Linked DNA regions of Homo sapiens. The protein of the gene in region 7 purifies or fractionates together with the protein of the main gene of each other region. This does not show direct contact. Each region holds a gene or a part of one and is shown on either strand. Other genes may lie near its edges.

Region 1 (4,007 bases), on a different chromosome or scaffold from region 7:
TTTTTTTTTTTTTTAGAAGGCAATTTAACAGAATTTGAGCAGAGGTATCAGATCCAACATGGACAGAGAAACTCACTCCCTGGGGGGCTGGAGTATCAGAAAAACAGAATTAACATAACCAGAAAGAACAGAAAAATCACAACAGCTAATACCACTTGCCACATTGCTGTAGCTTTAAGATTGAGGGAGGGGGACTAGAGGCCAGCCTGAGGTCTCCTGGGTCAGTTGGATCTAGGCGTTCTCCCTCTTCTTCTAGATCTGTACCCTAAATACCTTTGGTGTCTCCATGACTCAAAGGCAAATAGCTTAAATTTAGCTCTTTCTTTCAAGGGTTCAAGGAGCGAGAGCAGAGCCAAGTCCTGGAGACACTGAACTTGCTGTCGCAGTGGAAACCGAAATGTGCAGAGTAGGGGGCAGGGACGAGGGGGAAAGGGACCACTCAGGTCATTTTTAAGATGAGAGAGTAGCCACAGGGGAACAGAGTAGGAGTCTAAACGAAGTAAAGCATGACAGGTGTAGGTTTCCCTACACAGTGTTCTGTTTAAGGGCACAGGAAAAGTTACAGAATGACAAAAAAGGTGAGCAAGGAAATCTGCAGGGTGGCTGTTTTGAACCCACCACCGGTTTAATCTAGAGGAGGTCCAATCACTTGGATGTGGGGTATGGCAATCTAAATGCCCACAACTTCCATGGTGCCAGAGATTTCAATCAGATGAATGTTCTTCACACTCATTCCTGTAACAACACCTTACTTGCCTCTGGCAGAAAAGACAGGACTGTGGTGGCCAGCCTGAACAACCGATGAGAAATTTAACCTCTTGTGACAAAAAAATCAGCACTAAGGACCTTGAAGAAGTTTTTACCCAGACGTCTTGGGCAATACCGACGTCCTGACATGCAAAACCTTGACAACCACTAAACAAGACAATAAACACTAAGCAGAAAAATAAACATAAAACAAACAATTTGACCCTAGGGCAGGTAAACAGTTTTGACAGTTTTTTCCTTTTTTTTTTTTTTTTTTTTTTTAGACAGACAAGGGGGGGCCCTCCCGTGATGGGATCAGTCAGATGCCCACCTGGTCACTTCCCCTGAGGGGACTTGGGCTCCTCTTAGCATTGGCAGGCCGGTATAAACCCCCGGCTTGGATCGAGCTATGTCCGATGCTGCCTTAAGCCTTGTGAGGTCGCCCCAGAACTGCAGGTGAGGGCCCACTCAAACTGTGTAGCTTTCGCCGTGGAGCTACAAACTGGAAGACAAATGCAAGCCTTTGTCCTCCCACAGTCACTCACCATTCACAGAGTTTATAACAGTTTTTTTTTTCTTTCCTGGAGATTCTCCAAGAAACTTGAATAAGAGAAAGAGAGAGAGAGAGAGAGAGAGCGGTCTGCCAGAAACCAAGGCTCAGCTCCCCAGCATCCTGGGTCTTCAGCTAAGTCCAAGGGAGGGGCCTGATCAGGACCACTTCCCACCTAAACCAAGACACAGAGGCGCCTACCAGAAAACCAAGGCTCAACCCAGTAGCGTCCTAGAGTAACGGGCTGAGTCAAAAGAGGGATGCCCTCGTCAGGGCCACTTCCCTCTTACCAGAACCAGAACAAAGTCAAATCTGACCTACCTGACCCCGGGGTGAGAAGCTGAGGACTCAGATGTTGAATTTTAAGGCACTGACATGGTAGTCGATCCACTCTCCTCCGGAAGGTGGTCACTGTTTGGGGACCTGAAAATTCTTTCCTCAGGTGGTAACCCCCTCTGAGCCGGCCGTCCTTCCGGGGGAGCCCGGAGCAAGACCAACTCTCACCCAGTGGCATTAATTTCTCGCTGGGGCCTCCATTATGTTGTACCCGGGGTGTTAGAGAAAACGCCACACTTTGAGACTAATTAAGAGTCCTTTACTAGCCGGTGACCGAGAGACGGCTAATGCTCAAAATTCTCTCAGCCCTGAGGAAGGGGCTTGATTAACTTTTATACCTTGGTTTAGGAAGGGGAGGGGGGGTCTAGTTAAAACAATTTTACAGAAGTTAGGTAGTCAAAAAGTTAAAAGGATAAATGGTTACAGGAAAGTAAACAGTTCCAGGTGCAGGGGCTTTATGACTATTACAAGGTGATAGACGTGGGGCTTTGGGTGTTATCAATCAGATGAATTCTTGGGGACTGTGGATATAGCTTGCCACAGTATCTTATCAGTTAATTGCATTCTTGGATGTGCTGGGAGTCAGCTTGCACAAGTTAAGTCCTTGAGGAAGGGGCTGCCAGTGAAAGAGCCAAGATGGAGTCTGTCTGGCTCTCTTAGCTAAGGGAGAGTCTAAAAACAGAGTTAGTAAAAACCAGTTTGGGCATTACAAGTGTCCCAATTCAGTCAGGCTTTCTTCTTTCGTTCCATAAAGTACCAAATGCCTACCATGTGCCAGTCCCAGTGCTAGGCTCTGAAAATACCGCATGACCGAGGTAGACCTGGTTACTTCCTGTCTGGAGAGTACAGGGTAGCAAGGGAATCAGACATTAAACACAAGCATGCAAGTGAAAGTGTAAATACAACTTGCAGTGATTACTATGGAGAAGACAAAATGTAATAATAACGGGAGTCCTGTTTTAGATAGGATGGTCAGGGAACACTTCCTAAAGGAGACTGCACTTAAGCTGCAACTTGAGAAGTTACAGCAAGGGGCAGGGGAAATGCATTCCAGGCAGAGGGAATAGTCCCTGTGGATGCCTGAGTTGACACAGAACTTCCCGTTAGACAGGTCCAGTGTTCAAGAAGGGAGGCTTACCATGTGTCAAACACTGTGATGAGCATACAGAATATAGTGTTTGCGTACTGGTCGGTGGGACATCACCATCTAATGAGGGCCATAAACATAAGTAAGATCTTCATCTCAGCTGCTCAACTCTGCCTATGTAGGGCAAAAGCAATATGTAAATGACTGGGTATGGGAGGGTTCCAGTGAAATTTCATTTACAAAAACTGGGAGGTAGGGGTCAGGTGTGGTAGCTCATGCCTGTAATCCTAGCACTTTGGGAGATCAAGGCAGAAAGATCACTTGAGCCAGGGAGGTCCATGGTGGTACCACTGTACTCCAGCCTGGGCGACAGAGTGAGACCCCAAAAAATCCAGGAGGTGAGAGATGGGCTAGATTTGGGCTGAGGGCGGTAGTTTGCAGACTCTTGCTCTAGTCTAGATCAGTATACATTTTATGTCTTTACTCAGTGCATGTAACTCCAATATAATTGAAATAAACGTTTTACAAAACAGTGCTTACCATTGCAATATATGATAGCTTGATACTTTCTATTTCATTTTTTAAAATGTCCGTAATACTATTCACTAAATTGATCCAAGGCTCTATTCATGAGGTGTGACTAGCAGTTTGAGAAACTTGCTCAGTCATGGAGGTATGTACATTTTTAACTTGACTGGGTATTATATATACTTATATAAGGCATTTGGAACCTTTTCAGAAGGAGACAGAATATGAATAAATACCTCATTGTGTGTACGTTTTAAAATACAGATTGGATCCAATCGCTCCCCTGCTTTCCAGTCTTTTTCTAGGCCTCTCTTATCACTCACTCTGTGCTTCCTGTGCTCTAACCACTTGAAATTGCTCTGTTTCCCAAATGTGCCATGTCATGCTTTTTAAAAATGTGTCTTTTAGCCTTTTAGGTACCTTTTTATCTAGTTTGTTCCTTTTTTTTTTTTTTTTTTTGAGATGGAGTCTTGCTCTGTTGCCCAGGCTGGAGTGCAGTGGTACAATCTTGACTCACTGCAACCTCTGCCTCCCGGGTTCAAGCAGTTCTCCTGCCTCAGCCTCCTGTGTAGCTGGAGTCCCCGCCACCATGCCCAGCTAATTTTTGTATTTTTAGTAGAGATGGAGTTTCACTATGTTGGCCAGGCTGGTCTCGAACTCCTGACCTTGTGACCTCCCTGCCTCAGCCTCCCAAAGTGCTGGTATTACAGGCGTGAGCCACTGCACCCGGCCAGTTTGTTCCTCTTTTACTTTGTTTAG
Region 2 (4,782 bases), on a different chromosome or scaffold from region 7:
CCTTAGTTACTGGAGCCAGTGTATATATTTAAGTTCATTTTATCAGCCTTTTGGCATAATCTACTATTATATAATAATTATGAAGCCAAGCACAGTGGCACATGCCTATAGTCCCAGCTACTTGGGAAGCTAGGACAGGATGATCACTTGAGACCAGAAGTTCAAGGCTTTAGTGCACCACGATCATACCTGTGAAGCCACTGCACTCCAGCCTGGAGAGCATAGCAAAACGATTCTAAATAAATAAATACAATTATAATAATAATGATAATAATTATGAATCTTATTATTTTGCTTATAATAACCTTACATCAAACCATGTAGCTCTCCCACATAAACACACACACCCCGTATCATCCCAGTATCACATATCTACATTTAATGTGTTGAATATATCTATTGGTATATTATTGGTCAGGAAAACAACCTTATTTTAATAGTACTCTCTAAAACATGATAGCTCTACAATGGAGGTATCAAAAACACATGAAATAAGAAACAGACACCTGCTTCCTTGATGAAACTGTTCCTCGAACACTTGACATCCTAATGCCTAAGAAATAAGTTTAAGCCTTAAAACTTCTTTTCCTATTCCTCTGGATCTAAATACTAACATTCTTATTTAGGTCAAAGTTACTTTCATTTGTCAACTCACTAATTTTCTGATTTCATTATTCTACAGTCTGAAATATTACAAATGTACCTTTGCCCGGTCCTTCTTTTATTTTCATCTATTTATCCCAAAAACAGAAATATTTTGAACACCGAGATTTAGTTTAATCCCCTCACTTATAGGTAATAAAATAACCCCCCAAAATTAAGAGTGTTTTCTAGATTTTGGCTACTAGAAAAACTTTAGTGTCATCATTCTCTTTCTAAAACACATTTTCACTGAGACTGGGGCTTCATGTATTTGCCAGAATCAAAGAAAAATACCAAGCTACTAATATACTGGTACCCTCAGGAACTCTACTGATCAAAGTAGTCTTTCCATCTTTTAAATACTATTTTTCACATAGCTAGCTAGGGCATGAAATGAGCAAATATACTAACATAGGAAAAGCTAAGTAGATGCAGACTAATTTTTCCTATTTGTCGCAATCTCCCAATGACTATTTTATCAAAGGGATCATAATTCAAAAAACACTCCTAAGATTCTAGAAACTTGTGTAATATTAGTGCTTTGAGAGGCCAACGGCAGGAGGACTGCTTCAGCCCAGGAGTTCAAGACTAGCCTAGCCTGGGCAACATAGAAAGACCCTGTCTCTACAAAATATTTTTAATTAAAAAAACAATTTTAAAGACCCTAGGAACTTAAAATTAATTAGCATAAATTAGGGTCCAGGTCTGCTTACCTATAATTAAAATTTATCATGCTTCTTTTATTAACAGAAAGAGGTCTTGAGGTATACTGAGAGTAAAACAGCCCTCTGTGGGGATGCAACCTCTACACCTTCAAAAAAAAGTATAGGAGTCTTATCTTTTAGAGGGAAACTACTAGCACAGGAAGATATACAAAGACATATTGTAAGTGAAAACACCCAGTAAGTAAAATGTGCTATTATTTCTTAACTTTTTTACATTTCCAACTAAGAGAGATACAAATTGAAAACTCATCAACCTCCTAATGCATAAAGTTTACAAAACAAATGCACAAAGTTTAGAAACAAATGCACAAGACTGAATAAACAGTATGACCTAGATTTGGGGAAATAAAGAGACTAGACGGTAATATACCAAATGTTAGCAGATACAGCCGAGCGGTGAAATAAATGTGATTTTTTTTAAATGTTCTTCTTTATACTTTTTTATAATTTTCCAAATTTCCCCACAGTGAACATTACTTTTATATTTAAAAAACTCATTAAAAAATAAACCATATGGCATCTAATAAGGGTTCACTAAGAAGGGCTACGTTGTCGAAGTATTACCGGCATTAATCACCATTAAAGGGGTGAACACCTCTCACTTTCCACTATTAAAATGCTGCCGTTTAATGCCCTATTACTTTTCTGCTGCACCCTCAACGATGTATGAACTTCACTATCTCCTGCCATTTCATTTCTGCATACAACATGCTTTTAATTTTTTCTTCTTAAAATATGGTAAAAGTTCTCACTAATCCTCAATATTCCACTTTTTAAAATCTACCTCTAAATTTCGTCATAACACAATTAGGGGGAAAATTGTTTTGCCCACTAATTACAACTTCATTAGGGCACCATCCCTTTGGCTAGGGTAACGTGAAGGCCGGGTAAACTACACGTCCCACCATGCATTGCTGCCTTGTTCAGAGTAGGTCTCTACGGAAACAGGAAAAAAAAAAATTCTACAAGTCCCACCTGTTACTTCGTTTCTAAACACCTCCTGCACTTTCGGCTCCAACACCAAACAAAAACAAAAGCCTCGTGATCTCTCGTCTGCTCCGGGAGCCAGACAAACAGGGGGCCCGGGGTCACAGGCACGTCCGCTGTAACGGGTAAATTCTATCCAGCTCCAGCGCTCCCCTCTCCTTTCCGGGGCTGGATGCACGCACAAGCCTTCTCCTATCTGCATCCAATGGGGGCTCTCCAGCCGCACAAGGGAGAAGAACCGGTTACCGTGCAAGCACCACAGACTTCCCCGTGCCGGGGCGAGGGCTACCACAGAGCGGAGGTGATATCGGCTCGACCCCAAAAGACAGCCTCAAAACACTGAGAGGACTCGCCGCAGACGCCGAGGGACGCCACGGCCCCGCGGCTATCACGTTCCGCCGGGCGCCTCCATTCCCACAGGGATCGCAACCCCGACACTAACCGCCGCCCTCTCCGCGCGGTTTTGTGCCCCTTCAGCCGGGTCCCTGGGCCAGTGACCTCCCTTTCCCTGCGACTGGCGGGCGACAAGGGAACAAAATCCTCCCGGCCTTCCCCTTCGCTCCCTCCCCCTTACCGTCTTGGCGGCCTCCGCCCAGGTCCTGCCCTTCTTCCTACGTCCCTTTTCCCTCATGTCGGGTCTTGAACTGACTGGGAGGCTCCCGTGTCCGGGCTCCGGCCGCCCTCCCTGCCTGCTCTGCCCTGCGCTGCTTTTCCCGCGGTGCCGGGAAAGGTGGGAGAAAAGGGAAGTCAGACCGGGGGGGCACCCAAGCAGAGGAAGCGGCGGGGGTGGTGCGCGGGGGGGTCTATGGGGCGGCCGGTCCTCTTGCTGCCGTTGCCACTGCTACCGCCGCTGCCATATTGGGTTCTTACTGTACAGGCTGCCGCTACGGTCATGTGACCGCTCCCGCGCGGCCGTCACTACTGTACGCAGCCGGCCGCGCGAACGAGCGCGGGCGCGCCCCCGCCTCCCAAGCCCGGCCGCTGAGCTATCGAGCCGGCGGTCTGCGGTACCTCGCCACGCCCCCGCCCTTCCGGTCTCCGCCTCTCCGCAGGAGCATGCGCGCCAAGGAGGCCCCGGCAGTAGCTGTAGTCTGACGCCTGGCGCTCACACCTACAGCGAATATCTGCCTGCGGAAGCGGAACCTGTGCCATCCGGGAAAGCTTACTGAGCGGATCCCGCCTCTTGCGAGGCGCTGCACAGGCTGTGTAGACCTGGGGAGCTGAACTCTTCCCTCAGTGGGTGGCTCTGCCAACTATCACTTTAGATCAGCCCTGCGTTTGTGTTTTCTCATTTATTTGCATTTTTACAGAGGTTATCTTTTTGAAGATAGGCAACAATTCTCGTCTGCCTATTAACCCCATTCGATAGGCGAAGCAACTGAGATTGAGTGACTTGCCAAGCTCATAAGTCTGGGATGTAGAGAAACCAAAAATCAAATTGCCAGCTCAGAGCCCTTTCCATCTCCCCAGAATGCCTCAAACTTAGGTGACTTTGTTTTTAAGGCCACCAGTAACTGCATCCATGCTTTTACATGTGAAGCTACTCATCAATGACAGAAATGGTGTCTTCTTTATTTCGGTGAGCTCAGTCCCTAGCATAGTGCCTGTACATATCAGGCGCCCAGTAAATATTTGCTGAATGATTCACCTATTTCTGTGGTCAGAGACCATTATTTGTAGTATCCGTAACAGCTTTCTGAAAGATCCAGAATGTGGCATCTTCTCTTACATCATCTACACCTTGATACCTTGCAAAGTAAGAAGAATGTAGTAACAACTGCTGATCTCCCAAATCCACCTGCTTCCAGAAGCTGCTTCCAAACAATCCAGTAAACTTACTATAGTGTGAAATAGGACTGAGGATTGGATTGCCTCTTGGGAGGAAAGACAGGTGAGAGCAATACTTAAAGTTTATGGATGCGTTTCAGAAATTCATGGACTCCCTAAAATTATGAACTATATTTTGTGTGTTATATGTGAATTTTTTAAGAGGATTCATAACTTTTCCTCCATTTTTCAAAAAGGATCTGTTGTGCAAAAAAAAAAGAGAAAAAGATATTAAAGGGAGTTTGAGAGGCCATCTAGAAGTATCTAGATACTTCCTTATATTTCCGTTCAGTCATGGATCAAACAGCCTATTTCAGCAATTGATATGGATATATTTTCCCAAATGTCTTTGGTAATTCATAGCCTTATGCATTACACAGGTAGTATGTACCACCTCCCTCCAAAGCTTATGTCTGTAGTCTAAGAAGGCCTTCTCGCCAGGTGCGGTGGCTCACGCCTGTAATCCCAGCATTTTGGGAGGCTGAGGTGGTCAGATCACTTGAGGCCAAGAGTTCAAGACAAGCCTGGCCAACATGGAGAAACCCCATCTCTACTAAAAATACAAAAATTAGCTGGGCCTGGTGGCATGCGCCTGTAATCC
Region 3 (4,007 bases), on a different chromosome or scaffold from region 7:
TTGGTGTACAGGAGATAAAATCTGTAACTTTAGGCAATAATTTAGCATAATCTTGATGCCTCTGGCCTAGGGCATAACTGAAAAGCTCCTTTAAATAGTAGTTGAAGTCTTTTCCTTTTTTGCTGCATATTAGCTTCTTGCTGACATTAAAACTCCTGTGTCCACATCTCATGACATTTTCTTAAAGTGAGATTCTGTGGACTTGGTTCTTTTGGTACTTAGAAAATTGTTTCCTTTTATAATCTCTGTCTCCAAATATAGACCCTGAAAGTGAGAATTTGGCATGCTGTAAGAACTCTTTTAGGCCAGTGTGGCCAGAATATAATAGCAGTAGGGGTATAAGTGGGAGGTAGGGAGAAGTTGGCAAGGGTTACCTCGTGAAGGAATTTGATTCTAAGAGTGGTAAGAAGTCACTGAAGGATCTTAAACTAGAGATTCAATTTATACTTTAAAAAGATCATTTTGGATTTTTTGTTGAGTATATTATAGTGCAGGAGTAGAACTTACAAGACCAGCTGCAGGCTGCCACTGCAATGGACTGAGATGGGCCAGAAATCGTGATATCTTGTATAGGGCAGGAACAGTACAAATGGAGAAATATAGATGACTTTGAGATGTATTTCATAGGTAGAGTGAATAGGTTAATAGGATCTGCTATGGTGAATTGGAAGGAAGAGCAAGAACCAGGGTTAAAGGGAAAGGTAAAATTAGGATGACAGATTTCTGGCTTGAGCAGTTGGGTGGTGCCATGAGTTAGGGAAGACTGGAGGAGGATAGGTTTGTGATGGTGAAATCAAGAGTTCTCTTTTAGCTACACATATCCAAGTACTAGCTCAATGTCTGGCCTGGAGAAGATAATCAGCTCTTTTGCCCACCACCAAATCTAGCTGCACATGATTTCATTTCATTTCATAATGATGTAATTATTTCAGTCATTGGAAATGGATGCAGTAAGGTCACTGAAGTCAAAAAGTTAACATAAAGTTTGGCAGGTAGCCACTAGACCAGTTTGTTTGGCATAGTATTTGGGGTGACAAAGTTGGTGCAATGTATCATAAAGTGGGGAAGGACCCTTGGGGCACTAGGATTTGTTTCTTACTTTCTTTTTTTTTTTTTTTGAGACGGAGTCTCTGTTGCCCAGGCTGGAGCGCAATGGCGCAATCTTGGCTCACTGCAACCTCTGCCTCCTGGGTTCAAGCAATTCTCCTGCCTCAGCCTCCCAAGTAGCTGGGATTATAGGCACCCGCCACCATGCCTGGCTAATATTTTTAGTAGAGACGGAGTTTCACCATGTTGGTCAGGCTCGTCTTGAACTCATGACTTTAAGCAATCCACCTGCCTCGGCCTCCCAAAGTGCTGGGATTACAGGCGTGAGCCACTATGCCCAGCTAGATCTCATTTTAAAATATGAAAGACCTTTAGATGTTCATTTATATTTGTTTCTGTTCTAGGCTCTGTACAAAATGAGCTAAGTAGCTAAGGTATGTGCATTCCAGGTCATCTGTCTTAGATAATCATACAGAAAGGAAATCATAGACTTTACAGTATATATTAAATAACTACCAGTTGACTTGCTAATGAAAGGGAAAGTTTGTATGAATTTAAAACTCTAGACCAGCACTGTTTAACAGAACTCTCTGTAATAATAGGAATGTTCTATACCTGGGATGTCCAGTGTGGTAACTGCCGCCACGTGTATCTGTTGAATGCTTGAAATGTGGCTAACGTCACTACGGAACTGAATTTTTTATTTTTTTATTTTTTTGAGACGGAGTCTTGCTCTGTCACCCAGGCTGGAGTGCAGTGGTGCAATCTTGGCTCATGGTAACCTCCGCCTCCCGGATTCAAGCAATTCTCCTGCTGCAGTCTCCCAAGTAGCTGGGACTATAGGTGCACGCTGCCACACCCAGCTAATTTTTTGTGTTTAGTAGAGACGAGGTTTCACCATGTTGCCCAGGCTGGTTGCAAACTCCTGAGCTCAGGCAATCCGCATGCCTCTGCCTCCCAGAGTGCTGGGATTACCGGCATGAGCCACCATGTCCGGCCTTTTTTTTTTTTTTTGAGACAGAGTCTCGCTCTGTTGCCCAGGCTGGGGTGCAGTGGTGTGATCTCGGCTCACTGCAACCTCCGTCTCCCGGGTTCACGCCATTCTCCTGCCTCAGCCTCCTGAGTAGCTGGGACTACAGGCACGTGCCACCACACCCTAATTTTTGTTTTTTTTAAGTAGAGATGGGGTTTTACCATGTTGGCCAAGCTGGTCTCGAACTCGTGACCTAAGGTGATCCACCCGCCTTGGCCTCCCAAAATGTTGGGTTTACAGGCGCGAGCCACTACGCCCAGCCTGAATATTTAATTCTATTTAAATTTTTTTTTTTTGGGCCGAGGTCTCTGTCACCCAGACTGAAGTACAGTGGTGCAATTTTGGCTCACTGCAACGTCCGCCTCCCAGGCTCAGTTGATCTCCCACCTCAGCCTCCCATGTAGCTGGGACCACAAGCTAATTTCTGTATTTTCAGTAGAGACGGGGTTTCACCATGTTGCCCACACTGTTGAACTTGTGGGCTCAAGTGTTCTGCCCACCTTGGCCTCCCAAAGTGCTGGGATTACAAGCCTGAGCCCTTGTGAGCCCTTGTGCCCAGTAATTTTTTTTTTTTTTTTTTTTTTGAGATGGAGTCTCGCTCTGTCTCCCAGTCTGGAGTGCAGTGGCGCAATCTCGGCTCACTGCAAGCTCCGCCTCCTGGGTTCACACCGTTCTCCTTCCTCAGTGTCCTGAGTAGCTGGGACTACAGATGCCTGCTACCATGGCTGGCTAAATTTTTGTATTTTTAGTAGAGACGGGGTTTCTCCATGTTAGCCAGGATAGTCTCGATCTGACCTCGTGATCCACCTGCCTCAATTTAAGTAGTCGTGTGTGGCTTATACCTACTGTATTGAACAGTATCTAGGCAATCAACTTGTTAGCCACTTTTCTCCATTTGTACTGTTCTTGTCCCTAAACGAGCTCTCATGATTTCTGGCCCATCTCAGTCAACTGCAGTGGCTGCCTAGCTGGTCTTCTAAATTCCACTCCTGAGCTGTAGCCTACTAAACAAAAATTGAAAGTGATCTTTTAAAAATATTAGCTTGAGCCAAATCAACTTGCTTATGGAATATATTGTCCTTTTTTTTGAGACTGGGTCTTGCCGTGTCACCCAGACTGGAGTGCAGTGGCATGATCAGAGCTGACTGTAGCCTCAACCTCCTGGGCTCAAGCAAGCCATCCTCCCACTTCAGTTTCTGGGACTGCAGGCGCATACCACCATGCCTGGCTAATTTTTGTGTTTGTTTTAGAGACGGGGTTTTGCCATATTGCCAAACTGGTCTTGAACTTCTGGGCTTAAACAATCCTCCTTCAGCCTTCCAAAGTACTGGGATTACAAGTATGAATCACTGTGCCTGGCTATATTTGTCATTTATTTATTTATTTTTTGAGACCAGCTCACTCCTGGGCTTAAGTGATCCTCCTGCTTCAGCCTCCCAAGTGCTGGGATTACAGGTGTGAATCACTGTGTCTGGCTGTATTTGTCATTTATTTATTTATTTTTGAGACCAGGTCTTGCTCTGTCACCCAGGCTGGAGTGCAGTGATGCAATCATGGCTCACTGCAGCCTTGACTTCCCGGGTTCCAGCAGTCCTCCCACCTTAGCCTCCTTAGTAGCTGGGATCACAGGTGTGTGCCACATGCCCAGCTAATTTTTGTATTTTTGGTAGAGACAGGGTTTCCTCATGTTGCCCAGGCTGGTCTTGAACTCCTGAGTTCAAGCAATCCACCTGCCTCGGCTTCCCAAAGTGGTGGTATTACAGGTGTGAGCCAGTGCACCTGGCCCATATTTATCTTAAAAAAAAAATAGATGTTTATCATTTTTTATATAGACTCATTGAAAAAATGACTTTGTGTTCTTCCAGTACATACCATCATGTCTGAGAGGGCAGAGATCTAGACAAGTGTGGGAAAGATGACTTTGGAT
Region 4 (4,007 bases), on a different chromosome or scaffold from region 7:
TCATAACCTCAGGTAATCCCGGTAGCCTGGTGAAGATGGGGGCTATGATTCCCATTTTACATATGAAGAAGCTAAGGCTCAGAGAGGTTCAGTGACCTGTCCAAAGACACAGCTACAGGTGGCAGAGTTGAGATTTGAACCCAGGCAAACCTGGCTCTAGAGTCCAGGCTCTTCACCACCAGGCTTTCATGAGGCTTGGCTGTTCACATAGGCCAGTGAGGCTAGACCTCTCATTATCCCTGCTGTATTAGACTGATTTGTGAGCACTCAGTTTGTGTCAAGAGCTCTGCTCAAGTGCCGGGCACCATGGCTCACAGCTGTAATCCCAGCACTATGGGAGGCTGAGGCGGACGGATCACTCGAGGCCAGAAGTTTGAGACCAGCCTGGCCAACATGGCAAAACCCCATTTCTACTAAAAATACAAAAATTAGCCGGGTGTGGTAGCACATGCCTATAATTCCAGCTACTCTGGAGGCTGAGGCAGGAGAATTGCTTGAACCCGGGAGGCACAGGTTGTAGTGAGCCAAGATCGCACCACTGCACTCCAGCCTGGGTGACAGAACAAGACTCTGTCTCAAAAAAAAAAAAAAACTCTGCTAAGGACCATAAGCATATTTCATCACTTGCAGAGAGGCATCACTGTCACCCCAATTTACAGATGGGAAACTGAGCAGAAAGTTGTTAAAACACCCAGCACTTTGGGAGGCCGAGGTGGATGGATCACTTGATCTCTGGAGGTTGAAGCCAGCCTGGGAAACATAGCAAAACCCCATCTCTACAAAAAAAATCCAGAAATTAGTTGGGTGTGGTGGCGCACGCCTGTAGCCCCAGCTGCTCAGAAGGCTGAGGCTGCAGTAAGCTGAGATTGCACCACTGCACTCGAGCCTGGGCAACAGGAGACCCTGTCTCAAAAAAAAAAAAAAAAAAAAAGACACCTAGAGCCATGCAACTAGGTATTGACCGTCAGCAGGGTTGGTCAGCGGGCAGCCACGTGGAGGTGGCATGGGAGTGGGCAGTAGAACTGGACATCGCTGTCCCTGAAGGGTGGTCTGAGGATGGGCGGGACCAGTCTATGAAGGGACCAGAAGGGGCTCTCAGAATGTCCATGTGGCCCTTGACCCACACCCACCCACCAGCCTCTCTTCAGCTAAGAAGAAGAAACGGGACGATGGCATCCGCGAGCACGTGACGGGCTGTGCCCGCAGTGAGGGCTTCTACACCATCGACAAGAAGGACAAGCTCAGATACCTCAACAGCAGCCGTGCCAGCACCGATGAGCCCCCCGCAGACACCCAGGTACTGCCAGGGCTCCTGGACACATCAGAGCCTGCTGGGCTGGGCCACGGGGATCCAGGGCACTCATGGAGGGGTGCCAGGCAGAGGGAGGAGTTGTGAGGCCAGAGGGGCTGGCACACAGAGGGTGCAAGTGGAAGGGGAGAGGCGGGTGGGCGGGGCCTAGGAGAAGGAAGGAGTTTGCCTTAGTCCCATGGGCCCTGGAGCACCTCCAAAGGGTTTAATTAGGGATGTGACGGAGCTGTATTTCCGCAAGTTCATTCATTTTTTGTTTTTTGCTTGGGTTTTTTTTTTAGGGGGGGACAAAGCCTTGCTCTGTCACATAGGCTGAAGTGCAGTGGCACAGTCTCAGCTCACTGCAACCTCTGCCTCCTGGGTTCAAATGATTCTCCTGCCTCAGCCTCCTGAGTAGCTGGGATTACAGGTGCCCACCACCATGCCTGGCTAATTTTTTGTATTTTTAGTAGAGATGGGGTTTTGCCATGTTGGCCAGGTTGGTCTCGAACTCCTGACCTCAAGTAATTCGCCTGCCTTGGTCTCCCAAACTGCTGGGATTATAAGCATAAGCCACATCGCATGGCCTCATTCATTCTTTTTTTAATCCAGTAAATATCTGTTGAGTACATGCTGTGTACCGGGCACTGTTCTGGGTCTATAGCAGTGAACAAAACCAAATCCTATTCCTCGTGGAATTTAATTATTTATTTTTATTTTTAAATTAAAAAAAAATTGAGACGGGGTCTCACTCTGTAGCCCAAGCTGATCTGGAACTCCTGGGCTCAAGCGATCCTCCCGTCTCAGCCTCCCAAAGTGTTGAGATTATAGGTGTGAGCCACGGTACCCAGCTGGAATTTATATTTTAATGGGGACTCATAGGAAATAATCAAGTGAAGAAAGAAGCACGTAATTCCAGGCAGGGAAAATGCGATGGAGAAAACAGGAGAGGGGTTAGGGATTACCAAGTCAAAGGGGAGTCAGAGAGGGTCAGACCCAGGCGAAGTGTGGGAAGGCGCCATGTGGATGCCAGAGAGACTACAGAGAAGTGAAAAAGCGACTTCCATAAAAAGTTAAAACCAGAGAGGGGCTCACTGACCCCAGCAGGCCTCCCTAGGACAGCAGCAGTGCAAAGGCCCTGAGGCAGCAGGGAGCTCCATGGTGTGAGGAAGGGAAGGGAGAGGCCACTTGTGGGAGAGACAGCACAGGCCACCAGGGTCGGGGGTACTGTGGTGGTAAGTGACCTGTCTCCTGGGGTGACAGGCAGCAGAGGGAGGTTGTGAGAGGAGCTGGGGTGGTGTGGAGCTGGTGCAGGGGTCCTGAGGGCAGACTGTTCGGGTTGCTGCGGTTTCCAGACCGGATGTGCCGGACTTAGCTGGGCCGCGAGGAGCCATTAGCTGTGGAAGAATATGAGGAAGTGGGATGGACAGGACCAGGGCTGGCCTGGGTACAGGAGACAGGGATGGGCGGGGGGTGACAGCCCAGGGTGTGGCTGGGGTCGGGGGTGCTGGGAAGCTGGACACCAGGCCTGAGATGGGGAGGCTGATATGCTATCACCACGAGGCAGCTTGAGTTCTGCGGGTTCTGAAAACACCCAGGCAGAGAGGTCTTGGTGGGCATGTGGGTATGGCGGAGCTTAGGATGGGGATCTCCGGCCCGGGGACCTAAGTGTAGGCATCGCCAGGAGAGAAGTGGTGACTGAAGGTCACAGCAGGGTGACCTCACCTGGGAGGGCACTTGGGGCAGAGGCCTGGGATGCTCCAAAGGTTAATGGCTGGGGCAGAGGCCCAGGGAGGCCAAGAGCAGGACGTGACACAAGGGTTTCGGAAGGATCCCCGATTTTGAACGCTTGTGGGGTGAGAGGGGTCTGGGTGAGAGCCAAGGAGGGGGTCAGGGTAGACAAAACTTTCGGCTGAAATGGGGAAAAGACAGCGCCAGGCAAGAGTGAGTCTCGTCGTTTTGAAGATAGAAGGAGCTTGAGACGCTCAGATACTGATGGGATGGAGGAGGCAGGGAAGCGGTGACAATTAGGGACCGACAGGTGTGGAGAAGCCCAGAGCAAGGAGCCCAGGACACTGGGGATGACAGAGATCCAGAGCCTAGGGTGGGACCGCCGAGGACACGGCCAGCTCCGCTGAGCCCCGCACACCGTCCACTGCAGGGCATGAGCATCCCAGCACAGCCCCACGCCTCCACCCGGGCAGGCTCGGAGCGGCGTTCGGAGCAGCGCCGCCTGCTGTCCTCCTTCACTGGCAGCTGTGACAGTGACCTGCTCAAGTTCAACCAGCTCAAGGTGAGGCCGGGCTTCACCCAGATCGCCGGGGTGGCGGCAGGACCTGAGACCGGGGCTCACCTCTCCCCCTCTTCCCTCCCACAGTTCCGGAAGAAAAAGCTCAAGTTCTGCAAGAGCCACATTCACGACTGGGGCTTGTTCGCCATGGAGCCCATCGCGGCTGACGAGATGGTCATCGAGTACGTGGGCCAGAATATCCGTCAGGTAGGCACCGCCCGGCAGGATGGGCACCGGGGTGGGCATGGGGCCGGCCCAGCCAGACTGACCCCCTTTTGTGGCCAGGTGATCGCAGACATGCGGGAGAAGCGTTATGAGGACGAGGGCATCGGGAGCAGCTACATGTTCCGGGTGGACCATGACACCATCATCGACGCCACCAAGTGCGGCAACTTCGCGCGCTTCATCAACCACAGCTGCAACGTGAGT
Region 5 (4,007 bases), on a different chromosome or scaffold from region 7:
GGCAGTGTGGTAAAGCATTTAACAGCCCAGAATCATTTCTGTTTTAGCTAGAGCATTGGAGAGGTGATGAGGTGATAAAGCTTCCTCTTTCAGGCACGGCCCCTGCCAGCTTACACCTTTCACTGCAGCCTTACTGGTCTTACTGCTTCCCAGAGGTGGTCCTGAGCCTTCCTTTCTTGCCTTTGCTTGAGCCAGTGAGGAGTGTCCTCACCACCAGCACCCCTAGTAAGTCAGATCCTTTCCGTCCCGCTTCAGCCCATTTTCATCTCTTCTTGCTGCACTTCTGGTCAGTACTGGGCACTTGAGATGCCACATAGCATTGGTTTGGTATATTCCTTTTATTTACCCCTCTGAGCTCTAGGTTTCTTTCTTGAGATAGGAATTTGTCATACTTTCTATACATTATCATATTCAAAAATAAAAGACTCTTCACTGTACACAAAAACTGTTTTGACCTCTTACCACATTTTCATCTTCACAGCATACTTGTATGTATGTGCTGTTTTCCGCACATTCTAGAAACGAAAGCAAACTATAGTGCCAGGCAGTTTCACATACATGCTCTCATTTAACCCTCAGTGAGTGAATTGTAATAGTTACTCTTATTTTATATGTGAGGGAAAGAATCTCAGGAAGGTTTCCATGCATACTACTCAAAATTGAACATGCAGTCAAATCACTTGAGGCTGTTGGTAAAATGCAGATCCTGGGTCTGTAAGTCTAGGCTGGGGCCTGAGAGTTGGCATTTCCAACAAGCTCCTCAGTGACCAATGCCCCTCCTCACAGACCACATTCTGGGTGGACTAGAAGGGCCTGGATAAACTACGAAGCTCACATGGCTGGGGAGAAGCAGCCTGACTCAGAGCTTCTGTTGGCTGCCACTTGGCCCCCAGCACAATACTGCGCACGGCACCTTTACTGAAGAGGTGTTCATTGAGTGGCTGGTGGCTTTCCATGGAAACAGTTTGAAATGGATTATCAACAAACACATTTTCAGTCATTGTCAACACATGTCAAAACCACATCATCTGCAACAATTTTTGACTCAGTTTATTTACTTTTGCTGTCAAACAAGAAACGGAAGACGTGTCTTCATATCACTAAGAGTCCCATTTCTCCATCTCCTGCAATTTTGGTTTTCCAACTCTTTGATTCATTGACAGGACATTTACTGCCCGCTTGCCATGTGTTGGGCATTGCACTAGGCACTGGAGTTAGAAAAATGAATAAATCTCAGCAGCTGCCCTAGAGAATCATCGTGTCTAATGGGGGAGATATATGTGTATAAGACTTTCAAACTTTTTTGGCAACAACCCACTATAAGAATATTTTGCAATACAGCTGGTGCTCACATTCCTGCTGCTGTAACTGAAACAAAATTTCATGAGTCAAATTTAATAGATGTGATATGAGTGGTATTTTCTGTTGTGTCCTATTAACATGTTGTTTTAAAATATTGATTGTAACTTGCAGTTTGAAAAAACACAGCAGATGAATCACAATGGTAAATGCTGTGGTAAAGACCTAAAGTCTTCATATCAATAAAGTCACATTTCTCTGTGGGGGATTCCAAAGATGGGGCATCTTGCTTTGTGATGTGGAAGGTGCAGGACTACAGGCCCAGATGGTGCACAAGTAGAAGGCAGAACTATAAAAGGCTCTGGATGATTTTCTCCTGAAAGCATCAGAGACCCAAGAGGAACTTCATACATCTCTAGGACAGTAACATGATTAATTGGAGTTTCCAACAAATAATTTTAATCACAGACTATATCAACAGGGTATGCTGGTGATAGGGAGATTGGTTAGAATGTTCTTCTGAAATTCCCGTGCCTTTTCTAACACAGGTATTTTCTGTAATACTGTGCTACGAAACATGATTTTGCACTTGGTCCAACCTAGATTGCAGTCCTGCTGTGTTCTTGCTAGTTGTTTGAACTTGGGACAGTCTGTATATTGGTGGGACCCGCTGTTGATGTCTTTGTTTTCTAGATGAAAGAACTAGGGCCCAGAGAAGGAAGTGGATTTGAGCACCATCAGCACCTAGAGTGTGGTAGAGCTGGAACCAGAGCACAGGCTTCAAACTTCTCTTCCAGTGTCCTGTGTTTGTGTGTGAGGTTGACAGCAAATAACCAGTTAGTTCAAGCTCTTCGCGAGGTAGCTCCTTTTCATGTATAAATGTTACTGGGTTTTTCTCTTCTTAGCTGTCAAGTTCAAAACTCTTCTGTTTTTTAAGGAACTCCCAAGTTATTTGAAGCAGCTGCTTTTAAACCTCACCATTGCCTTGACTTTGCTTAATGCAGATCAAAGACACAGCTCTCCCCTTCTATCAAGCGCAAGAGAGAAGTCAGCCCTCCTGGGGCCCGAACAAGAGGCCAGCAAAGGGTGGAGGAAGCCCCTGTGAAAAAAGCGAAGCGATAATCCTGACCACTGCTGCCCTAGGCTTATGGAGGAACACGGTGGAGAGGAAAGAGACATGCCTTGGTGGCCATAGGCTTCTCTTTAACCAGGAAAAAGATATGCATGTGCTGTAAGTCCCTAGGTGCAAGCTTTTTCTTGTTATGTTTTAAACAGCTTTATAAACTATTGTTCATAGAAGATATTATGTACATTTATTTCAGATAAAGGACAATAAGTTTACTTTGTATCTGAACTCAAAACAAAGTAGTTGTATATTTTAACATTCAAAATTGGGATTTCCCAATGTGACACATCATGAATGCAAACCCCTCCAGCCCATCAGACGCCAGGCTGCCTACTGGTAATCTGTGTATAGTATATAAACATGTAAAAATAGGTTGTATTTTACTCTATGTATGATGCTAATCAATGAACACTTTATTTATTTTACAGAGAAAACTTATCTGTGAACTTTACTATATATCTGTTTATTTTACTTTATTTTTTTTTTAAATAAAAAGGGTTTTAAATGCTATGCAGTCATTAGTAGAAAATTTTTTAGGACTCTGCCTGCTCTGTAACTATCTTAATATGATCTGGCAGAAACTCGCATGTATCCAAGTAAAGTAGTTTAGCTAAAGAAAGGTTCTTCATTGCTTTTCTGTTCACAGTTGTGGCTCTGTTTTTTAAGAATGTAACTTGTTTTTAGATTATACTTGCATCTGTGACTTTACTACCAGCCACGTTGACACAAAACAGGTTCTGGTTCAGGTAAAGTTGCGTCAGTCACCTGCAGCAGAAATCCCTCTTCATTCCTCTTCTCTGTGTTCATTCCTCTTCTGTGCTGTTCTGAAGCTTCTACCAATACTCTTTCCATATTGTCTTTTTCAGTGAAGAGAAATGCATTCAAGATTAGGTCCCTCCTGTCTATCCAGTTTCAGGATTTTATGTTGTTTTATACACAGTTATTTCAGTATAGAAACTGGCTTTATTGCCAAGTGTTTTTTTAAACATGTTTTAACTCTCATATGAGCAAACTGTCCAACTTCAGTTTTTCATAAGATTAAACTTCTTACGATCAAATTTGTCTCTTGCAATGATGTGATGAGTTGCCAAATAATTGAGATTATTTTAAAATGTTTTGTTCATATTCTTGTTTTATAATTAAAATTTACATTCAGTGTGTATGGGTTTTTTTTTTTATTTTGACTCTTAATGTAAGGTGGATATTTCTGTCATTTTACATGGTTTCTTACTGAGATTTTATATATAAATTATAAAATGTTTACCAAAATTTGAGTGGTAAGAATTTTATTTGTGTGTTTTAAAATGTGTCTGCATGAAAACCATTTCTTCTCTCTAAATAATTGGTCTTAGCTGTATCATTCCATGCTCACATTCAAATTTGAGTCAGTGATGGCCTTTCTCAGTAGAACTGAACTCGGTAGAACTGAACTTGGAAGAACTGAACTTTAGATCCAGAAAGGCCATTAGAGATGAGGAACATGAGAGTTTCTCATTTTTATGTATATGGATGATTTTTAACCAAAACTCAAAAATCTAAAGTGATTTGTCTTAAAAGTAAGAAATGCAAATCAAAGCCACAG
Region 6 (4,007 bases), on a different chromosome or scaffold from region 7:
TGAAATTCATAGCGTGGATCATGTAAATAAGTTAGATTTACTAAGAGAATACATAAAATACTTAATATTTAAAAGTTTGCATGCAATAGGTAAGTATTTGTTAAACAACAGGCTTTAGGACTTTTATAAATAAGCCTAATATGTCCAATTACAGATATTTATGTATTTACTCAATTCAGCAAATAATATTTATTTGATGATAGTTTATTAGCTTGGTTTATTACTGTTTTCCTGAAAGAATAGGATTGCATGTCTCCATCATTCAGACTTTTTGCTACTACAGACTTTGGTATGTTAATAAAATATTAATTTTTTAAAAATAACATGAATATTGTACATTTATATTCTGTTCAATGCAAAATCCAATATAATTTTAGCTGGATTTTAATAAAATTATTAAATCTGTTTTCTCTGTCTATATTTTTGTTGTTGTTATTATTCTTGTTGTTGTACAGTTGAAAATGCTATGGATTGTCTATTAGAATTATCTGCCACTGATACCAAGATAGAAGAATCATCTTCACAAAGTTTCGTTGCTTCTGAGAACCAAGTAGGTGCAGCAGAAAGTAAAATAATGGAAAAACGTCCTGAAGAAGAGAGTGAAGATTCAAAAATGGATTCATTTTTGGACATGCAGCTAACTGAAGACCTGGATTCCTTAATACAGAATGCTTTTGAGAAATTGAACTCTTCTCCTGATGACCAAGTATACTCATTTTTGCCTTCACAAGATGTTAATAGTTTTAATGACTCAAGTGAGTTTATAAATCCTGATTCAAGTAATATGACTCCCATTTTTTCTACACAAAATATGAATTTGAACGGTGAAAATTTAGAGAATTCTGGTTCTACTTTAAGTTTAAACCCATTACCTTCACATTCAGTTTTGAACGAGTCCAAGTGTTTTATAAAGGATAACACATTGGCTTTGGAAAGTAACTACCCGGAAGATTCTCTTCTCAGTAGTTCTTTAAATGTAGCAAGTGACTCCATCGCAGGTTGTAGCAGTCTCAATCAAAAACAGAAAGAACTTTTAGAATCTGAGTGCGTTGAGGCTCAATTCTCTGAAGCTCCTGTAGATTTGGATGCCAGTGAACCTCAGGCTTGTTTAAACCTTCCAGGGCTTGATTTACCAGGTACAGGTGGGGATCAGAAATCTACTCGGGTCTCTGATGTGTTTCTACCTTCCGAAGGGTTCAACTTCAAGCCACACAAACATCCTGAACTGCCAACTAAGGGGAAGGATGTGAGTTACTGCCCGGTACTTGCTCCTCTCCCATTGCTGTTGCCTCCTCCGCCACCTCCACCGATGTGGAATCCAATGATTCCTGCTTTTGACCTCTTCCAAGGAAACCATGGCTTTGTAGCTCCTGTTGTAACCACAGCTGCACACTGGAGATCTGTCAACTACACATTTCCACCCTCAGTTATTTCTCACACTTCCCCAACAAAAGTATGGAGAAATAAAGATGGAACAAGTGCTTATCAAGTACAAGAAACCCCAGTTTCTCAGGTTGTAAGAAAGAAGACATCTTACGTTGGACTAGTTCTTGTTCTTCTCAGAGGTCTTCCGGGATCTGGAAAATCTTTTTTGGCAAGGTATGAGGTTTGATTGGGTTTTTAAAAAATAGTATAATGTCTGAATTTGAACACAAGTATGAATAAATAGGCAAAATGCTTTGCTTAGTAGAGATCTTTAGTAACCCCTAAAATGTTTTCTTTTTACTAAGGTTTCCTAACTTTGTGTAGCTAATAACACTGTTTTCTGTGGAAGTTTATTGAAACCGTTCATCTTGGAATATCTCTTTGAAAGACAGAAGAAAAAATTAAAGACAATTTCAAAATTGTGAGCTATTGATGTAGTAGTAGAAGAGAGCTAATTTGAGTGGGAGAAAGATGAGTTCAGCTTTGATCACAGAGTTAAAGAGATATAATTGATCTTGATTTCATGGAATGGAAGACTTAAATACATTAATTTTACTGGTAGTTGGAAATTCAGGATTATAGAGTGTTGTTAAATAATGCTTTTAGAAATGTGTGATTTGAAGGAAGAGAGTATAGGATGACAACTGGTAGTCAGAGAACTTCAAGTTTTCAGGGACTTTTCTGTTCCAAAATAGAGTACCATCAGTTATTTGATCTCATATATACACCTTTATCCCTTCTGTAGTTAAGGTAGGCTGTGAGTGCCTTAATCTGGGAGACAGGAGTCAGTGTTAGAGGCAGCTTTGTAATGGTTTCAGTGGCACTCCTTGAAGAGTATTGTTTTCATAGTCCCTCTCTATCCCTGCTTAACCTTTAAATTCCAGAAGATTTCACCTAATCTATTTTATATGCTAGTTCTTTTTTTTTTGAGACGGAGTCTTGCTCTGTTGCCCAGGCTGGAGTGCAGTGGCGCGATCTCGGCTCACTGCAAGCTCCGCCTCCCAGGTTCATGCCATTCCTGCCTCAGCCTCCCGAGCAGCTGGGACTACAGGCGCCCACCACCACGCCCAGCTACTTTTTTGTATTTTTAGTAGAGACGGGGTTTCACCGTGTTAGCCAGGATGGTCTCGATTTCCTGACCTCGTGATCCACCCGCCCCGGCCTCCCAAAGTGCTGGGATTACAGGCGTGAGCCACCGCGCCTGGCTTGCTAGTTCTTTTTTTTTTTTTTTCCTTTTTCCAAATTTTAACCATTAGCCTTCTAACATTATCAGTTGGGTCTCTATTTGATCCTGGGTGTATCTAGTCTAGTCTTAATGAATATGCATAGATAACTGGAGAATGTCCTTCATAAACTTATTTTTAGTTTTTTTTTTTTGATATCTTTTCTGTGTCTGGGTTTCTCTGCTAGTAAATTTCCACATATTCTGCTGATACACTTATAAGCATATTTTTCAGTAGACATGTAGGCTTTTCTAACTGACTTAATAACAACAACAACATAAAACAATTTAATATTATAGATGTTACTGTCAGTCATGGCAGTGTGTTTCATGAAAGAGATTGGACTGAAAGGTGGTACCTTAGAAGGCAGTTGAGCTGTGAGACAAGTTTGAAGAATAGGTTTCAGGGGCCTTTAGAATCAGAGGCAGCTACAGTGTGGGTAAAGAAAAATGTGCTTTTCACAAGGTAGAAACTTAATATTTTTTGAATGAAGAGAGAGAAATAACAGGAAGAGTGTTGAGACATAGAACCTGCGTTGTCTTTTTTTTTTTTTTGGAGACAGAGTCTTGCTCTGTCGCCCAGGCTAGAGTGCAGTGGTGCGATCTCGGCTCACTGCAAGCTCCGCCTCCCAGGTTCACGCCATTCTCCTGCCTCGGCCTCCGGAGTAGCGGGACTACAGCCACTGCCACCGCGCCTGGTTAATTTTTTGTATTTTTAGTAGAGATGGGGTTTCACCGTGTTAGCCGGGATGGTCTTGATCTCCTGACCTTGTGATCCGCCCGCCTCGGCCTCCCAAAGTGCTGGGATTACAGGCGTGAGCCACCACGCCCAACAATCCTGCGTTGTCTTGAAGAGAATGGTCTAGTATTCAAACCAAAGGAAAACGATGAGTGGAAAAAGCCTTTTGAATTTATTGGAAAGAAGGTCATAAATGGATATCTGAGAAACAATTTTGTTGTCCTGTGAGGACAAAAGGGTTTAACAAGCTCTGATGATGGAGTTAAAGGAAGGAGAGAAGTTGGGTAGTAGTTGAAAGGGGTCCCAAAGTGTAGTTACAATTTTTTTTTTTTTTTTTTGACAGAGTCTGACTCTGTCACCCAGGCTGTTGTGCAGTGGTGTGATCTCAGCTTACTGCAACCTCCACCTCCCCAGGTTTATGAGATTCTCCAGCCTCGGTCTCCTGAGTAGCTGGGATTACAGGTATCTGCTGCCACCCCCAGCTAATTTTTATATTTTTAGTAGAGACAGGGTTTCACCATGTTGGCCAGGCTGGTCTCAAACTTTTTTTTTTTTTTTTTAAGAGACAGGGTCTTGCTTTGTCACCCAGGCTGGAGTGCAGTGGCACGTTCATAGCTCAGT
Region 7 (3,553 bases):
TGAGTTCTCAATAACCTTTGGATAGGAGATTTTACAAGAAAACCACTTAAAAATATTAGTGATTAAATGTCCTGAATAGCATTTAGACAAGCATTCTTGCTCCATAATTAAAATAGATTTGGCATTTTTCCCTTAAATTATAAATAAGAGATGATTACTTCTAGTAGATAGCCAATATTTACCAAATTATTAACTAATCGAAAAAAGTATCTCCATGCTTTCAACCTTCAAACTGTTTCTAAGAGGATAACATACTCTAAATCTGAAAGAGTATGTGATTAATGCAATCAGCAGGGCATTTCACTAGATAGAATAAGCTCTCTTTAGCCATATATATATATAATCTTGATTTACAGCATTCTCTATGCTTCTTCACTAATGCTTCCTGGAAAATTCATACAAAGAACAATATGATTAAATGAGAGTATGTGTCAAATGCGTCAGAAAATGGAGGTACAAATGCAAGGTGCTGTTATTACAAAATGAAATACTATCATTAATTAGCAGTGACTTGTGAATGCTAATATAGATTGCTATATTTTACTAGTGATAGGGAATTTGCAGCACTCCTCCCCCAAATCATGTCATGCAAGCAAAAAAGCATGAGATTTCAAAACTGCCTAACATTAAAAAATAAGTCTCTTAATTTATTTGCATTCTAAAATAGAGCCCTTCATCCTGAATCCCCTTTTCCATATAAAATGGTACTAAGTATTGTACAGGATTTGTCAAGCCCATATAACAGTCCCTTTAAAATCTTAAGTTCAATCACTATTTGTTTTCTACTATTATACTACATTTTGGCAGCAATTGTTTATTGGTCTGTCATTGCAGTAATTGCAACTTAACAATAAACCAGTCTGACATTTTAGGTCTTGAGGATACATACCATATATATTTCTTTAAAAATAATCATACTTTTTGTAAGCAATACTTTACAGTAGACACCTCAAAAATCTACCATAGATGTGAAACTTAAAACGAGAAAAATTTAAGTTCTAAAGATTTATACATATATATCCAGATTTCTATATATATTATATATACATACATAAGTATATATAAAATATATATAATCAGATTTCAAAAATGAACAAAAACTGGGCACTGTACATAAAGTCTTTTTTAAAACTCAAACAATAGAAAACTCTTTAAACATTAAACAATTTTAATAAAAGTTTCTGTACAATGCTAAGCAGTTTTATTTACACATAGAAAATGTAATAGGAGTAGTGTTTGAAATTACAGAACTCCTTAAAATTTCAATGGCAGGTAAATCTGGAAAAAATAACAGCATTCCATTCACAAATATTTTCAAGCAATAAATATGTATTTATAAATAGTGTAAATTTACATCAAGATTAGAAACAAAAATCACAAATCTGAAGTTTATTCCTTAGTCTATGTGCAATCCATTACCTTTGTGACTTGGCTGTTAATTTTTTAAATTTTATTTAGGAACCAAAAGTGTAACCATCATGGTCTCAAAACAAGACAGAAAAACATAAAAGCAGTAAAAAAGTGTCTTACCTAACTTTTCACATTAAAAAAAAGTTGACCAAAGAAAGACTTAAAATTGCTAACTACCTTACAAAGAAATGACCAGCTAGGCTAGTATTTTTTTTCCAAGGAAAATTCTGAAGGGGGAAAAGACAGATGAAAACAAATTCATCAGCCCAGAAATAGAGAAATATAAAAGAGGTTGTCTTCAAGTCAGTAGTCTGTAAGATGTTGCCAGTTTTGTCAGATATATACAAAACATGGAAATTATTATTTTTTTCTGAAGTACAGCTCATCAGCTTTGTGAGAGTCCTGGAGTAGGAGCAGTACTCTCTCCCGTCCAGTTGGTTGACACTCCGCACTTGGAAGGTTGCATAGACACAGTTTTCAGCCAGCAGCCTTACGAGATAGCTACAAAAACCAGTGGTGCAGAACTGGGTTATTTCCTGAATAGCAGAAAAGGTCTCATTTAATGTCCATGGAACAATATCAAGATGAGGCGGATGGTAATGGAGGAGCCTGAAAATAAAAGTAAGGTAGGTTATTTTGATATACAAATTGTTAATAGCTCATGGCTACAAACATATAGTCTGCTTGTGAAGTTAGGGGAAATAACTCTCAAAAAGTTCAACAGCCTGCTATGCAACATAAAAGTACAGCCTACCTTACTATCTCCCATTCAGCCAATCTTCCTAAGAATCTAAGACCATTATCCTACTCAGTGTACTTGCAATTTTCTATACTTCTTCACCAATTAGTCAAAAACTCTTGGAATGTTATTACGTTTACCATTTTTTAAGATTGCTTAAAAAAAGGGGGCTTCTTGCAAAATAATTTAACAAATTACAATTTCACTAGTGACTGCCTTCAGAATCTATCTCAGCTAGGTAATATATTTTCTTCAACATATTTCAGATAATTTTCTTCTTCAAGCAATCTTGAAGACCATTCAAGTGAAAATATCAGAAAGTAAATTTCAAAAAGTTAGTTTCTGATCACATATGTGTGGGAGACAAGTACTGGAGAAAATCAACAATTCATAAATTATCTCTGTGTTTCTATTCATAAAGCTATTGATCTGCGAAAGTAAAATGCTTCCCCCAAGCATCTGCTGTCTGAAATTAAAAACTGTGCAATTTATAAGTATACTTGAATTTCATAAGGTTACATAATATACCAGGAAGTTAAGCTCCATTAAATACTCCCATGAGGTTAATACTTCTGGCAAGGACAAAATTTTAAACAAATACAATTAGCTCTAAAAGCAGAAGTATATTTAAAAGCACACTTACTGATTCATTTTGTGGGCTCTAATAACCTACGTACACAAACATTTTATCAACTGAGATAAAATGACATAAAGGATATGATAGTGTTCTATCTAAAGCACGCAAAGATTTTTAAATGTAATTGTTGTAAAATTATTTAGGCTGGTCTCACCCAGGAAAACTGAAAATGATATATGCCAATTTTATAGGAATAAATACTTGGAAATGGAGGGGGGAATGATATGAATATACCCTCATGCAATATATAATGAGCCAAAGGAAAATTTAAAATATTTCATTACCTCCTACTTATCAGGTGGCAGAGCAAACACTGCTGCTTCATAACCCAGCTAACTATGTACTCACATGTTGATTTGACTTACTAATGTAAATTGGTCATAGACTTGCATCAGGTCCTCCATTTTGTACTGTTCTAGCACCACAAAGTTTTCCAAGTTTCCGCTTGTTTTTCGTGCACAATCTTGGCAATGTACTATGTAGGTCTTTCGTGAATTACTCTCATTAGTGACAAAAAGCAGATCAAAAACCTCCACCTGTTTTATACAAGAGAAAAACGTATTCAATAGAGATAGTGGTATTTACTGTACTGCTTTAGTATAATCATGGAATTCTACTTGAATGAAATTGTGGACAGTGATCTCTGGTTAAGAGTAGGTGGTAAGAAAAACATGGCTGTGTTTGAGAATCTTTAACAGACCAGGTTTATTTTGCACCAAATCCAAAGACATGGGTAGTAATGCATATTTAGGGGAATAATCAAAGGG

Evidence for each region.
Region 1: the proteins of KDM6A (region 7) and DET1 purify together in Homo sapiens (affinity purification with western blotting, with the first as the bait; one study listed by BioGRID). This does not show direct contact.
Region 2: the proteins of KDM6A (region 7) and ASXL2 purify together in Homo sapiens (affinity purification with mass spectrometry, with the first as the bait; one large-scale study listed by BioGRID). This does not show direct contact.
Region 3: the proteins of KDM6A (region 7) and KANSL3 purify together in Homo sapiens (affinity purification with mass spectrometry, with the first as the bait; one large-scale study listed by BioGRID). This does not show direct contact.
Region 4: the proteins of KDM6A (region 7) and SETD1B purify together in Homo sapiens (affinity purification with mass spectrometry, with the first as the bait; one large-scale study listed by BioGRID). This does not show direct contact.
Region 5: the proteins of KDM6A (region 7) and BOD1L1 purify together in Homo sapiens (affinity purification with mass spectrometry, with the first as the bait; one large-scale study listed by BioGRID). This does not show direct contact.
Region 6: the proteins of KDM6A (region 7) and N4BP2 purify together in Homo sapiens (affinity purification with mass spectrometry, with the first as the bait; one study listed by BioGRID). This does not show direct contact.

The regions. Positions count from the first base shown.
Region 1 is NC_000015.10:88,536,471-88,540,477, reverse strand, and holds part of DET1 (DET1 homolog), read left to right. Parts: intron 1-4,007. UniProt on the Homo sapiens protein: Component of the E3 ubiquitin ligase DCX DET1-COP1 complex, which is required for ubiquitination and subsequent degradation of target proteins. The complex is involved in JUN ubiquitination and degradation.
Region 2 is NC_000002.12:25,875,238-25,880,019, forward strand, and holds the start of ASXL2 (putative Polycomb group protein ASXL2), read right to left. Parts: upstream 3,251-4,782; 5' UTR 2,986-3,250; coding exon 2,929-2,985; intron 1-2,928.
Region 3 is NC_000002.12:96,631,623-96,635,629, reverse strand, and holds part of KANSL3 (KAT8 regulatory NSL complex subunit 3), read left to right. Parts: intron 1-4,007. UniProt on the Homo sapiens protein: Non-catalytic component of the NSL histone acetyltransferase complex, a multiprotein complex that mediates histone H4 acetylation at 'Lys-5'- and 'Lys-8' (H4K5ac and H4K8ac) at transcription start sites and promotes transcription initiation.
Region 4 is NC_000012.12:121,824,070-121,828,076, forward strand, and holds part of SETD1B (histone-lysine N-methyltransferase SETD1B), read left to right. Parts: intron 1-1,130; coding exon 1,131-1,297; intron 1,298-3,449; coding exon 3,450-3,581; intron 3,582-3,665; coding exon 3,666-3,785; intron 3,786-3,863; coding exon 3,864-4,001; intron 4,002-4,007. UniProt on the Homo sapiens protein: Histone methyltransferase that catalyzes methyl group transfer from S-adenosyl-L-methionine to the epsilon-amino group of 'Lys-4' of histone H3 (H3K4) via a non-processive mechanism.
Region 5 is NC_000004.12:13,568,425-13,572,431, reverse strand, and holds the end of BOD1L1 (biorientation of chromosomes in cell division protein 1-like 1), read left to right. Parts: intron 1-1,992; coding exon of another isoform or gene 1,993-1,996; exon of another isoform or gene 1,997-2,297; intron 2,298-2,303; coding exon 2,304-2,421; 3' UTR 2,422-3,694; downstream 3,695-4,007. UniProt on the Homo sapiens protein: Component of the fork protection machinery required to protect stalled/damaged replication forks from uncontrolled DNA2-dependent resection.
Region 6 is NC_000004.12:40,101,620-40,105,626, forward strand, and holds part of N4BP2 (NEDD4-binding protein 2), read left to right. Parts: intron 1-455; coding exon 456-1,599; intron 1,600-4,007. UniProt on the Homo sapiens protein: Has 5'-polynucleotide kinase and nicking endonuclease activity. May play a role in DNA repair or recombination.
Region 7 is NC_000023.11:45,109,848-45,113,400, reverse strand, and holds the end of KDM6A (lysine-specific demethylase 6A), read right to left. Parts: intron 3,323-3,553; coding exon 3,152-3,322; intron 2,020-3,151; coding exon 1,990-2,019; 3' UTR 622-1,989; downstream 1-621. UniProt on the Homo sapiens protein: Histone demethylase that specifically demethylates 'Lys-27' of histone H3, thereby playing a central role in histone code. Demethylates trimethylated and dimethylated but not monomethylated H3 'Lys-27'.